2 linked regions of the Homo sapiens genome follow. The protein of the gene in region 1 purifies or fractionates together with the protein of each later gene. This does not show direct contact. Each region holds a gene or a part of one and is shown in the gene's direction. Other genes may lie near its edges.

Region 1 (5,605 bases):
TCACTGCTCAGTTTAACTCCTTTAAATTTAGTTCAGCTGAAGTTTTTCTTCTAACAGGAATCAGACTGGTAAGCCTTGAATCCTACCTGTTTATCTCCTGCTCACCTGAAGTTGTAAAGTTTAGTACCTCTAGGCCTATTTCTTCACCTATAAAATGGGGACAATACTGACCTTGAAATCTTGAAATAATTCAACTAGATATATATATATGAACGGTAGAAAAATTTTGTCTCTCCAATATTCTGTTAAAATTCTCACCCCCTGCCCCGCCCCCAGCACTTCCCTGGGGTTAAAAAAAAAAAAAAAAAAAAAAATCAAAGCACTTAATTCCCAGCATAACGATGAAGGTTTGTCATAAAAGAAAATTTCTTGTGTGAAATGATTACCAAGAAAGTACTGCATACGCAATGGGGGAAAAGACCAACCCTCAATCAGTTTAATAATCACCTTGGTTATTAAATTCTATGGTAACTTAATTTCAACGTACAAAACTTTCCCTTAGTATTGTAATGAAAACACCATTTATAGAAAGAGAACCAGGAACCTGAAAAATTCCCCTCATTGCATAGATAGAAATCCTCCTTAAAAAACATTTATAACTCGGGTCACTAAAAGTTACGTATGGGAAATCATTATTTAAGTAGTGGGCATTTTATGTCCAGTTTCCCAGGACTTGATGATCCATCCCTAGGGAAGCCTTCAGGATGAAACTGATCTGGGAACAGAGGTTTGAGCTAGGTTAATTCTAGAGGTCGTCCCAGACATTTCCAGATGCCAAGCGGTATCTTTTTTTTTTTTTTTTTTTTTTTGGAGACAGAGTCTCTGTTGCCCAGGCTGGAGGGCAGTGGCGCGATCTAGGCTCACTGTAACCTCCGCCTCCCGGGTTTAAGCGATTCTCGTGCCACAACCTCCTGAGTGGCTGGGATTACAGGCGTGCACCACCGCACCCAGCTAATTTTTGTATTTTTAGTAGAGACGGGGTTTCACCATGTTGGCCATCCTGGTCTTGAACTCCTGACCTCAGGTGATCCGCCCACCTCAGCCTCCCAAAGTGCTGGGATTACAGGCGTGAGCCACTGCACCCGGCCTGAAGATGTAAAATCTACCACGGAAGGATGATCTAAGTGGGGAAGGAGATGACAGGTGACAGCCTCCCGTGTGGAAGCAGAAAGTAGCGGACGGTAGGAGCCGAAGGCTTCCCTCGGGACCCAGCAGACTTCCCGCAGCCTCCTGGGTTCCCGTCACATTCCTCGGAACCCTCAGTGCACCAGACAGGGGGAGCTTGGAAGAGGCAGGTCAAGAATCGCCCCCGACCCCGCCCCAGCGTTCTGCTCCCAGGGCGGCCTCCCACGCGCCCCGGACCACGCAGCCCGATGGGCCAGGTAGGGCGCGTCTCTGCACCGAAAATGCATTAGGGCCCGCGTGAGCCCCGGTGAACATCCACAGTGCAGTCACTAACAGGCATTACTCCTGGGGCCCACGTGAGTCTATTTAGCATGTGAGGGAAACCAGCCACGGCAGGGAGACTGGGGCTCTCCGTGGTGGCAAAGCCTGCTCAACCTGGGCCCGCGGAGGGAAAACTCGGAAGTCATTTCCATTAGCTCCCCTTCCCCCAAACTGATTCGCTTCTGTCAATCCATCCCTAGAAATAATGTCGAGGCCGGGACCAAGGGGTGCTGCGTTTTAAAAATTCTGCATAGGAAAACCCCTGGAAGTACTGAGGGACAGACAGCCCCACTCACCTGTCAGCCCTGGGGGCGTGCGCGAAACCGCCCAAGGAGAAAAAACCAGCTGGTGCGCAGGCGCACGCCGTCCCACATCCGCAGGCCCGCAACGCCACGCCCCCTGCCACGCCTCCGCGCGCCACTAGCCCCACCCGTCTCCCCGGCCCAGCCCGGCCGCTCGCCCTGTCCGGTCTCTCCCCGGCCCCTTGATTCTCCGCGTCTTCCTCGCAGGCCAGCCTAAGCTCAGCCTGCATTGCGCCCTCCCGGCCTAGGGTGTCGCTGTACCGGCCTCCGAGCTCCACATAGACAAGTCCGGACCTCGGGCGGGGGCAGGAGACGGAGCTGAGCGGCGGGGGGCAGTGTCGCCTCGGTCTAGGGACGGCGGCGGAGTCGGTGGTCCCTGCGCGATGGCCACCTCGGTGTTGTGCTGCCTGCGGTGCTGCAGAGACGGGGGGACTGGCCACATCCCTCTGAAGGAGATGCCGGCCGTGCAGCTGGACACGCAGCACATGGGTAAGGGCCCTCCCTTCCCCAGACCCAACGGCTCACGGGGGCCGGGCGCGGCGGGCAGGGGGACCTTCAGGGTCAGAGGGTCCCCACGCTGCCCCGCCGCGCCGGCGACGCTGCGCCGACACCATTTCGTCTCGCAGATCTCTCCAGAAGCCGGCGGACTCCACCTGGGCCCGGTTCTGTGTTCAAGGCTGCGCAGCCCTCTCTGTGTCTGTCATCGCGAATGGGCGTGTGGACCTCCCATTTTCACAGGAATCTCGGAGGCTTCCTCCGGAGATGTCACACGTCCTCGGGCGAGGGGGCGGAGAGTGCCCTTCTGGCGCGCCCCAGTGAAAACCTACACATTTTCAGAATGCTTCTAGGTCCGGTCTTGCTCCTCCTCCTGCCCTGACTGTCGGTCCTGTCTCTTGAGCCCCATCATTTATAGGTTGAATCCTATATTATTGGAAGTAATTTTCCTCTCACCTCCTAAAGTCGAAACAAGGCAGACTGCAGAAGTCTGAAGTCGCACCTCAGGTCAGAACTTGCCATTTCAACTAAAACCTCCCATTGCCCGACTCCTTAGTCATTGTGAGAGGTACTGTAATTTCATCTGACTGGCCTCTTCCCAACAGGTCTAACTGTTGAAAAATAAAATAGCACTTTGCTCCTTTGCATCTTGCTTTATCCTTTTAATTCCAAATCCATATAATTTATCTAACATTCTTCCTCTCCCATCATAGCCTCTTTCACCACCTTATTATTTCTTAGACTTTTCCCAGGTAGTTTCATGCTTCTGGAATGTGGTTCTAGAAGGAGAGATTTCCCAATATAATTATTTCAGTTAGAGTACTGTCTTTTTGTGGATTATTTTATTCTAACTGTACTTCTGCACTTTTGATTTTTTACACGTTTCTGATTGTTTAAAGGACAGTGCATTGAAATAAAAAGGCACTTCTTAATATTTATGATAAAACTCTCTCGCCCAGTTTCCTTATAATTCTGGAAACACTCTGCCCACTGTATTTTTGTATAACACATACTAAATGTGATAACTATATAATCACCTTGTATGTGTGTATTTACTTTTAATTCTCAGATCTCCCAAATGTAGTACAGAACCTTAATACATAAGTAATCTTTAAATTATTTTTTATCCATCATTATTTATAGACGATGGAGTTCAAATTCTATAGTTTTCCTCAGAAAATATTTCCATTTCAGTTACTCATTTACTGAAGTGATATTTATTAAGCAATTATCAGGTGGCAGGCATTGTTATAAGTGCTGAGAATATAGTGAAGGACAACCATACATAATTCCTGGAACTCATGATCAACTGCAGCACTTCTTCCTATCTTTACTGTTAGACTCTTGAATTACTGCAGTCTCCTCTTTGGAGCATTCCTTTTCTCTGTCATCTGTTTCCTCTAGGAAGAGCTGGTCAGATATACTCATTCCACTGTGTTTTATTTCTCCAAAGCTGTCCAGCAACTGTCAGCTACTAACTGGATGAAATAGAGTAATGTCATCTCCAAATTTTCTAACTGCATGGAAGTTTTTTCTTCTTCTTTTCTTTTTTTTTTTTTTTTTTTTTTGAGACGGAGTTTCACTATTGTTGCCCAGGCTGGAGTGCTGTGGCACAATCTCCACTCACTGCAACCTCCGCCTCCCGGGTTCAAGCAATTCTTCTGCCTCAGCCTCTTGAGTAGCTGGGATTACAGGCGCCCACCATCAAGCCCGGCTAATTTTTGTATTTTTAGTAGAGACAGAGTTTCACCATGTTGGTCAGGCTGGTCTCGAACTGACCTCGTGATCTGCCTGCCTCTCAGCCTCCCAAAGTGCTGGGATTATAGGGGTGAGCCACCACGCCCGGCCAGGAAGTTTTTTCTTAGCCTGTCTTTCTATAAACTTAAATTATTCAATCACAGAGGAGCCTGATTTGAGAACCTGAATAAAATGAAAGAAAAGGGTTGTTGAGTTAGAAGAACATGTTTCAAGCATGAATTGATCTTGACTTGAAAATAGAAACACATGGATTTGGTGGTGTGAAAGATTATTATATTAAATAACCTAAAAAATGTGATTGCTTTTTTTTTTTTAACAAAATTGTCTGTATACTTCAAGTGATTCTCCGAGGGTTGTCACTTATTTTAGTGATGTTGTATTACTTAAAACCACTTTGGAATTCCTCTTTTGGAATTTTCTATGGCATAATTTTTGTAAGTATTATCATTGATGCCATATCTTTGGCTTTTAATTGTGAATCGACATTTTAGAAACAAATGACTTCCAAGGCAGCTACTTTGAAAGGGACACCGCTCATTTGGAAATTTATGTTTCTTAAAACATCCTCTGTGGCTATGTTTATGTGGCATTCTGGCTGTACTCAAATTTGCCTTGACCGTCTAAGCAGCACCAATCATTAAAAGTACAGATTCTAAAACCGTCTGTGTACTTAAGAGAAATGGGATAAGCTTAAAATGATTCCCTAATGACTCATAAACACCCTGAATATTCTTTCTTTCTTTTTTTTTCTTTTTTTTTTTTTTGAGAGGGAATCTCGCTCTGTCGCCCAGGCTGGAGTGCAGTGGCCTGATCTCAGCTCACTGCAACCTCCGCCTCCTGGGTTCAATTAATTCTCCTGTCTCAGCCTCCTGAGTAGCTGGGACTATAGGCGCCCACCACCATGCCTGGCTAATTTTTGTATTTTTAGTAGAGATGGGGGTTTCACCATGTTGGCCAGGCTGGTCTTGAACTCCTGACCTCAAGTAATCTGCCTGCCTCAGCCTCCCAAAGAGCTGGGATTACAGGTGTTAGCCACCTCGCCTGGCCAAGAGTGTTATATCCCATTGTGCTCTGCAAAAGTCCTGAGATTCTGATTGTAGTTGATTAGGTCATGTAGCAGTTCTTGACTCAGTTACTGTGGCCAAGAAATGTGGAGGGCACTGATTGCCTTAACCTAGATCAAATGTTGTACACCTGAAGCAGAGATTGAGTCAGCTTTCTTGGAACTGTTTTGATCTCCAGAGGGAAGTCTGTCGGGAGAGGGAGAACAGATACTGCATGTCCACTACAAAGTGCTTAGCACAGCATATTAATTCAACCTTTATCAGTTATTTGATGAGCAGCTGCTCAATGCCAAGCACTGCATGGTCTTTGCCATCAAGGAGGATGCTCTCCAGTTGAAATTACTGGAGGTATATGGAGTAGCCAGATGCAAATTATTTATAAAGGTACTTTCCCAGAATTTGGGGGTTAACTTTTTTAATTAGAAAAAAAAAGATGTTAATGAATTTTTAGTAATCATACAATAGGATCTCAGTTTTGCCTTGTTTAAGGGAGAGCATCTCTTAACCAGTTTAGAATTGTGTTAGAATCTGAAAATTTTG
Region 2 (5,143 bases), on another chromosome or scaffold:
TATTTTTATTTGAAAGTACTGGTATATCAGCTGGGTGCGGCAGCTCATACCTGTAATCCCAGTGCTTTGCGAGGCTGAGGTGGGAGGATCACTTGAGGCCAGGAGTTCAAGACCAGCCTGGGCAACAAAGCGAGATTCCATGGCTACAAATATATGTATATAGATTTAGCTGGGTGCGGTGGTACATGCCTGTGGTCCTAGCTGCTCTGGAAGCTGAGATGGGAGGATCACTTGAGCCCAGAAGTTCGAGGTTACAATGAGTTATCATTATACCACTGCACTCCAGCATGGGTGACAGAACAAGACTTTGTCTCCAAAAAAAAAAAAAAAAAGGAAAAAAGAAAAGAAAGTGGCAACTGACTTATTTATGTATCTATGTTTAGTGAAATTGTATGAGAATTGGTGTGGGAGTTCATAAGAAGGGCTTTATAAGAGTAAAGCATTATTATTTTGAATATAGGGAAATAGGTTCATTTTTCCTGTGGTGTTCATTGCTTCTCAAGTTTTGATGAGCTATGTTTCTATTAGTTAAAAAACATCAACAACAACAGTATGCACTAAGATTCTGCCTTTTTCTGCCCACCTCCACTCTGCCAAGTTCATGAAATTGGAGTACAACAAATGAATTCTTATGTGTTAGGCTGTGCTGTAATTTTACAACTGGTTTAAGCTAAGATTTTACCATTACCACCCTTACAACTGTCATTTCTTGATTTATCCCTTTTTTCTTTTAACCTCTCTCACCCACACACTGTCATTGATTCAATTTAGCTACATCAGCAGTGTACAGTAGCAAAAGGAGACAATAGAAGCAGTGAAGAAGAAGGTGAGGTGGGACAGCAGGAACATAAGTCTGACAAATTTCTAAATGAAGAGTTAATTTTGTCTGTCCCTTGTGGCAAAGTAGATTTATCAAAAACATTTAAATGAATTATTTTTTAATCTCTCTCTCTTTTTAGTTAATAGGCTTCTTTTGTTTGCTGGTGTGTTGTATAGTAAAGGCAATATATGTTAAGACTGCAACTATATTTGCCAGATCAAAAATTTACTGAAATGTAGACCTCAAATATTATTTTAATTTTGTTCTTTTTTCATTATCACCAATGTAACAATGAAGATCGTATCCCATACAAAATTATGAAAATGTGCTTTTTTCCTGTCTTATTTTAGGTTAGAGAATAAAGAGGAGAAGATACTGTTAATGTAAAGCAAAGGGCGATTCCTCCTTAGGGTTTTTACAATAACATTTATTTTTAATAGAAAGATATGTTCTTTTATTCAAATAGTTTATGTATTTTATTTACTTATTTTTGACAGTAGCCTGGAGCTGAGAAGGGAATAAAGCAGGGCTTTTAGCAGGAGACCCTTACTCTTTGTTGAAATATACATTAGGGCTGTGTTTCCAAAAGTGTGGAAGGTATACCACAATATTAGAGTAACAATAAGATTATCAAGTATTAAAGGGTGATACAGTATTTGTGGAAACAAAGACTCTGAAAAGCAAGCTGGCAATGGTTTAAAATAAAAAGAAAATATCATTTGAACAAACAATGGTATTTTCTTTTGGATTATTTATCCCAGAGAAATAAAAATATTTGTAAAAATATAAGAATATAGGGCAAGATGTGGTGGCTCATGCCTGTAATCCCAGCACTTTGGGAGGCCAAGGTGGGCGGATCACAAGGTCAGGAGATTGAGACCATCCTGGCTAACATGGTGAAACCCTGTCTCTACAAAAAATACAAAAAAATTAGCCGGGCATGGTGGCGGGTGCCTGTAGTCCCAGCTACTCGGGAGGCTGAGGCAGGAGAATGGCGTGAACCTGGGAGGCTGAGGTTGCAGTGAGCCGAGATCGCGCCACTGCACTCCAGCCTGGGCGACAGAGCGAAACTCTGTCTCAAAACAAAAAAAAAAGAATATATATGTACAAGGTTAACTGCAGCACTGAATTTTTCCTCAAAAAAGAAAAAAAAAAAAAACAGCCTAGGCAACGTGGCAAAACCCCATCTCTACAAAAAATACAAAAACCTAGCTGGGTGTGGTGGTGGCATGAGCCTATAGTCCCAGTTACTTGGGAGGCTGAGGTGGGAGGATCACCTAAGCCTAGGAGGTTGAGGCTGCAGTGAGCCATGTGCACCACTGCACTCCAGCCTGAGTGACAGAGTGAGACTCTGTCTCAAAAAAAAAAAAAAAAAAGCTATTATATTAAAGAGGAGTGGTAGAAGACTTATGGAATAACTATACTATGAAAGTTATGCAGATACTAAAAAGAATGAGTTAGGCCTAGACCACCAATTTAGAGAAATTTTGCAATGTACTATTAAGTGAGAAAGATGCAAATAAGTATATATAGCATGATTCTGATTTGTAAAACAAAGTCATTTCATGTATGTTTACATATAATATGTTTGTGTATGATTTAATGAGCACTGAGAAAGTTATGAAAGGATAAATACTAGGTTGTTAACTTGAGGGAAGAATAAAGAGGAAAATAAAAATAGTCTCAATGTATATGTATTAAGCTTTGAGCAAGTGAGTAATTTAAAAAGTAAGAATTTAGCAATTCAGAGCCTGAAGCTACAAGAGGATTTCCCAGCATAATTTGGATTGAATAAACCCAGTATGAGACACACAGAAAAGGATCTATAGTTTTATTAACCATGCTATTATAATTGAGGGTTTTCACCAGTTCCTCAGAAATATGGAAATTGAAGATGATAACCTATTTATTTATTTATTTATTTATTTATTTATTGAGACAGAGTTTTACTGTGTTACCCAGACTGGAGTGCAGTGGCATGATCTTGGCTCACTGCAACCTCCGCCTCCCGGGTTCAAGCAATTCTCATGCCTCAGCTTCCTGAGTAGCTGGGATTACAGACACATGCCTAGCTAATTTTTGTGTTTTTAGTAGAGACAGGGTTTCACCATCTTGGTCAGGCTGGTCTCGAACTCCTGACCTCAGGTGATCCACCTGCCTCAGCCTCCCAAAGTGTTGGGATTACAGGCATGAGCCACCATGCCCAGCCTTTTCTAAATACTTTAGAAAGTATTTAACATAAACTATATAGAGTTCTCATTAAAAAAAAAAAGAACAGTATTAGGCATTAAAGGCAGACTAGCAGGATAGTGAGACTTTGTCCTTGAATCAAGCAGAAGGATTGAAAAATAATAAAAAGATAAGAAAATTAGTGTTATTAAATGCCATGTGATGTTCTACTACCAATCAATACACTTTTTTTTTTTTTTTGAGACGGAGTCTCTGGGCTCACTGCAAGCTCCGCCTCCCAGGTTCACGCCATTCTCCTGCCTCAGCCTCCCGAGTAGCTGGGACTACAGGCGCCCGCCACCACGCCCAGCTAATTTTTTGTATTTTTAGTAGAGACAGGGTTTCACCGTGTTAGCCAGGATGGTCTCAGTCTCCTGACTTTGTGATCCACCCTCCTCGGCCTCCCAAAGTGCTGGGATTATAGGCGTGAGCCACCGCACCTGGCCGATCAATACACTTTTAATTGCCTACTATGTACCAGGCTAAGCACTGTACTAGGTTCTACCTTTATAGAGATAAGATAGAGCTGTTTAGTGAGGGTAGGGACAATACAAAGGACCTCAGTGAAGGTAGAACCTCACATTCTTTTTTTTTTTTGGTGGGGGACAGAGTTTTGCTCTTGTTGCCCAGGCTGGAGTGCAATGGCGCAGTCTCAGCTCACTGCAACCACTGCATCCCAGGTTCAAGCAATTCTCCTGCCTCAGCCTCCTGAGTAGCTGGGATTACAGATGTGCACCACCACACCTGGCTAAATTTTTTTTGTATTTTTAGTAGAGATGGGGGTATCATCATGTTGGCCAGGCTGGTCTCGAACTCCTGACCTCAGGTGATGTACCTGCCTCGGCCTCCCAAAGTGCTGGGATTACAGATGAGAGCCACCATCCGTGCCCAGCCTAGAACCTAACATTCTAGGGGCGAGGTGGACAATTAAAAAAGCCCACAGAGCAGACCACGAGGTCAGGAGTTCGAGACCAGCCTGGACAACAAGGTGAAACCCCGTCTCTACTAAAAATACAAAAATTAGCCAGGCGTGGTGGCGGGCGCCTGTAATCCCAGCTACTTGGGAGGCTGAGGTGGGAGAATTGCTTGAACCCAGGAGGCAGAGGTTGCAGTGAGCCGAGATCGTGTCATTGCACTCCAGCCTGGGCGACAGAGGAAGACTCAGTCTCGGGGGGAAAAAAAAAAAAGCCCACAGATTGGCTGGGCACACTGGCTCATTCCTGTAATCCCACCTCTTTGGGAGGCTGAAGCAGGAGGATCACTTGAGGCCACTAGTTTGAGACCAGCCTGGCCAAAAAAGTGAGATTCTGTCTCTACAAAAAAAAAAAAAAAGATAAAAAAGAAAAGAAATTAGCCAGGCATGGTGGCCTGTGCTTGTAGTCCTAGCTACTAGGAAGGCTGAGGAAGGAAGATCATGTGAGCCCAGGAGTCTGAGGTTACAGTGAGCTAGGGTCATGCTACTGCACTCCAGCCTGGGTGATAGAGTAAGACCCTGTCTCTTAAAACAAAACAAAAAACAAAACAAACAAAAAAAAGCTTACTACAGATTGTGACACGTCCAAGGAAGTAAACAGAATAATGAGAAGGGCCATCATTTTTTAAATCATTTTTCAAGAGAGTGGTCAGTGAAGGGCCCTTAGGAGGCAATATTAAGAGCTGAGAACTAAAAGGGAATGAGGGTGAAGTGGTGGAGGGAATTCCAAAGGGCTCACACGTACAAAGCTTAGATATAGAAAAGGGTTTGATGTGTTCAACAAACAGAAAGGCCAGTGTGCCTGAAGCATTGGTAATTAAGTATGGGGGTAAATGGCCTCCCAAAGTACTGGGATTACAGGCGTGAGCCACTACGCCTGGCCGATTCTTTCAATTTAATGTCCTCCTGTCTATAGAGTTCCTAGAACATCTTGAGCTGGATGAAACTCCTTTTCATCCAGAGGGCAGCAGAGTGTACCTGGAGCCTACATGGGATTTGTAGTCTAACCTGGGTTTGAATCCTCATTTGAAACCTTTTGAGCTCAGGTGTTTACTTTTGGAGCCTGTTTTCTCATCTGTCTAAGAAGGGATAATGACACCTAGCACATAGGGATGTTCTAA

What was found. The genes of interacting proteins can lie anywhere in the genome.
Region 2: the proteins of SPRYD7 (region 1) and SLC25A12 purify together in Homo sapiens (affinity purification with mass spectrometry; one large-scale study listed by BioGRID and IntAct). This does not show direct contact.

Annotation. Positions count from the first base shown.
Region 1 is NC_000013.11:49,932,762-49,938,366, reverse strand, and holds the start of SPRYD7 (SPRY domain-containing protein 7), read left to right. Parts: upstream 1-2,026; 5' UTR 2,027-2,131; coding exon 2,132-2,237; intron 2,238-5,605.
Region 2 is NC_000002.12:171,883,284-171,888,426, reverse strand, and holds part of SLC25A12 (electrogenic aspartate/glutamate antiporter SLC25A12, mitochondrial), read left to right. Parts: intron 1-5,143. UniProt on the Homo sapiens protein: Mitochondrial electrogenic aspartate/glutamate antiporter that favors efflux of aspartate and entry of glutamate and proton within the mitochondria as part of the malate-aspartate shuttle.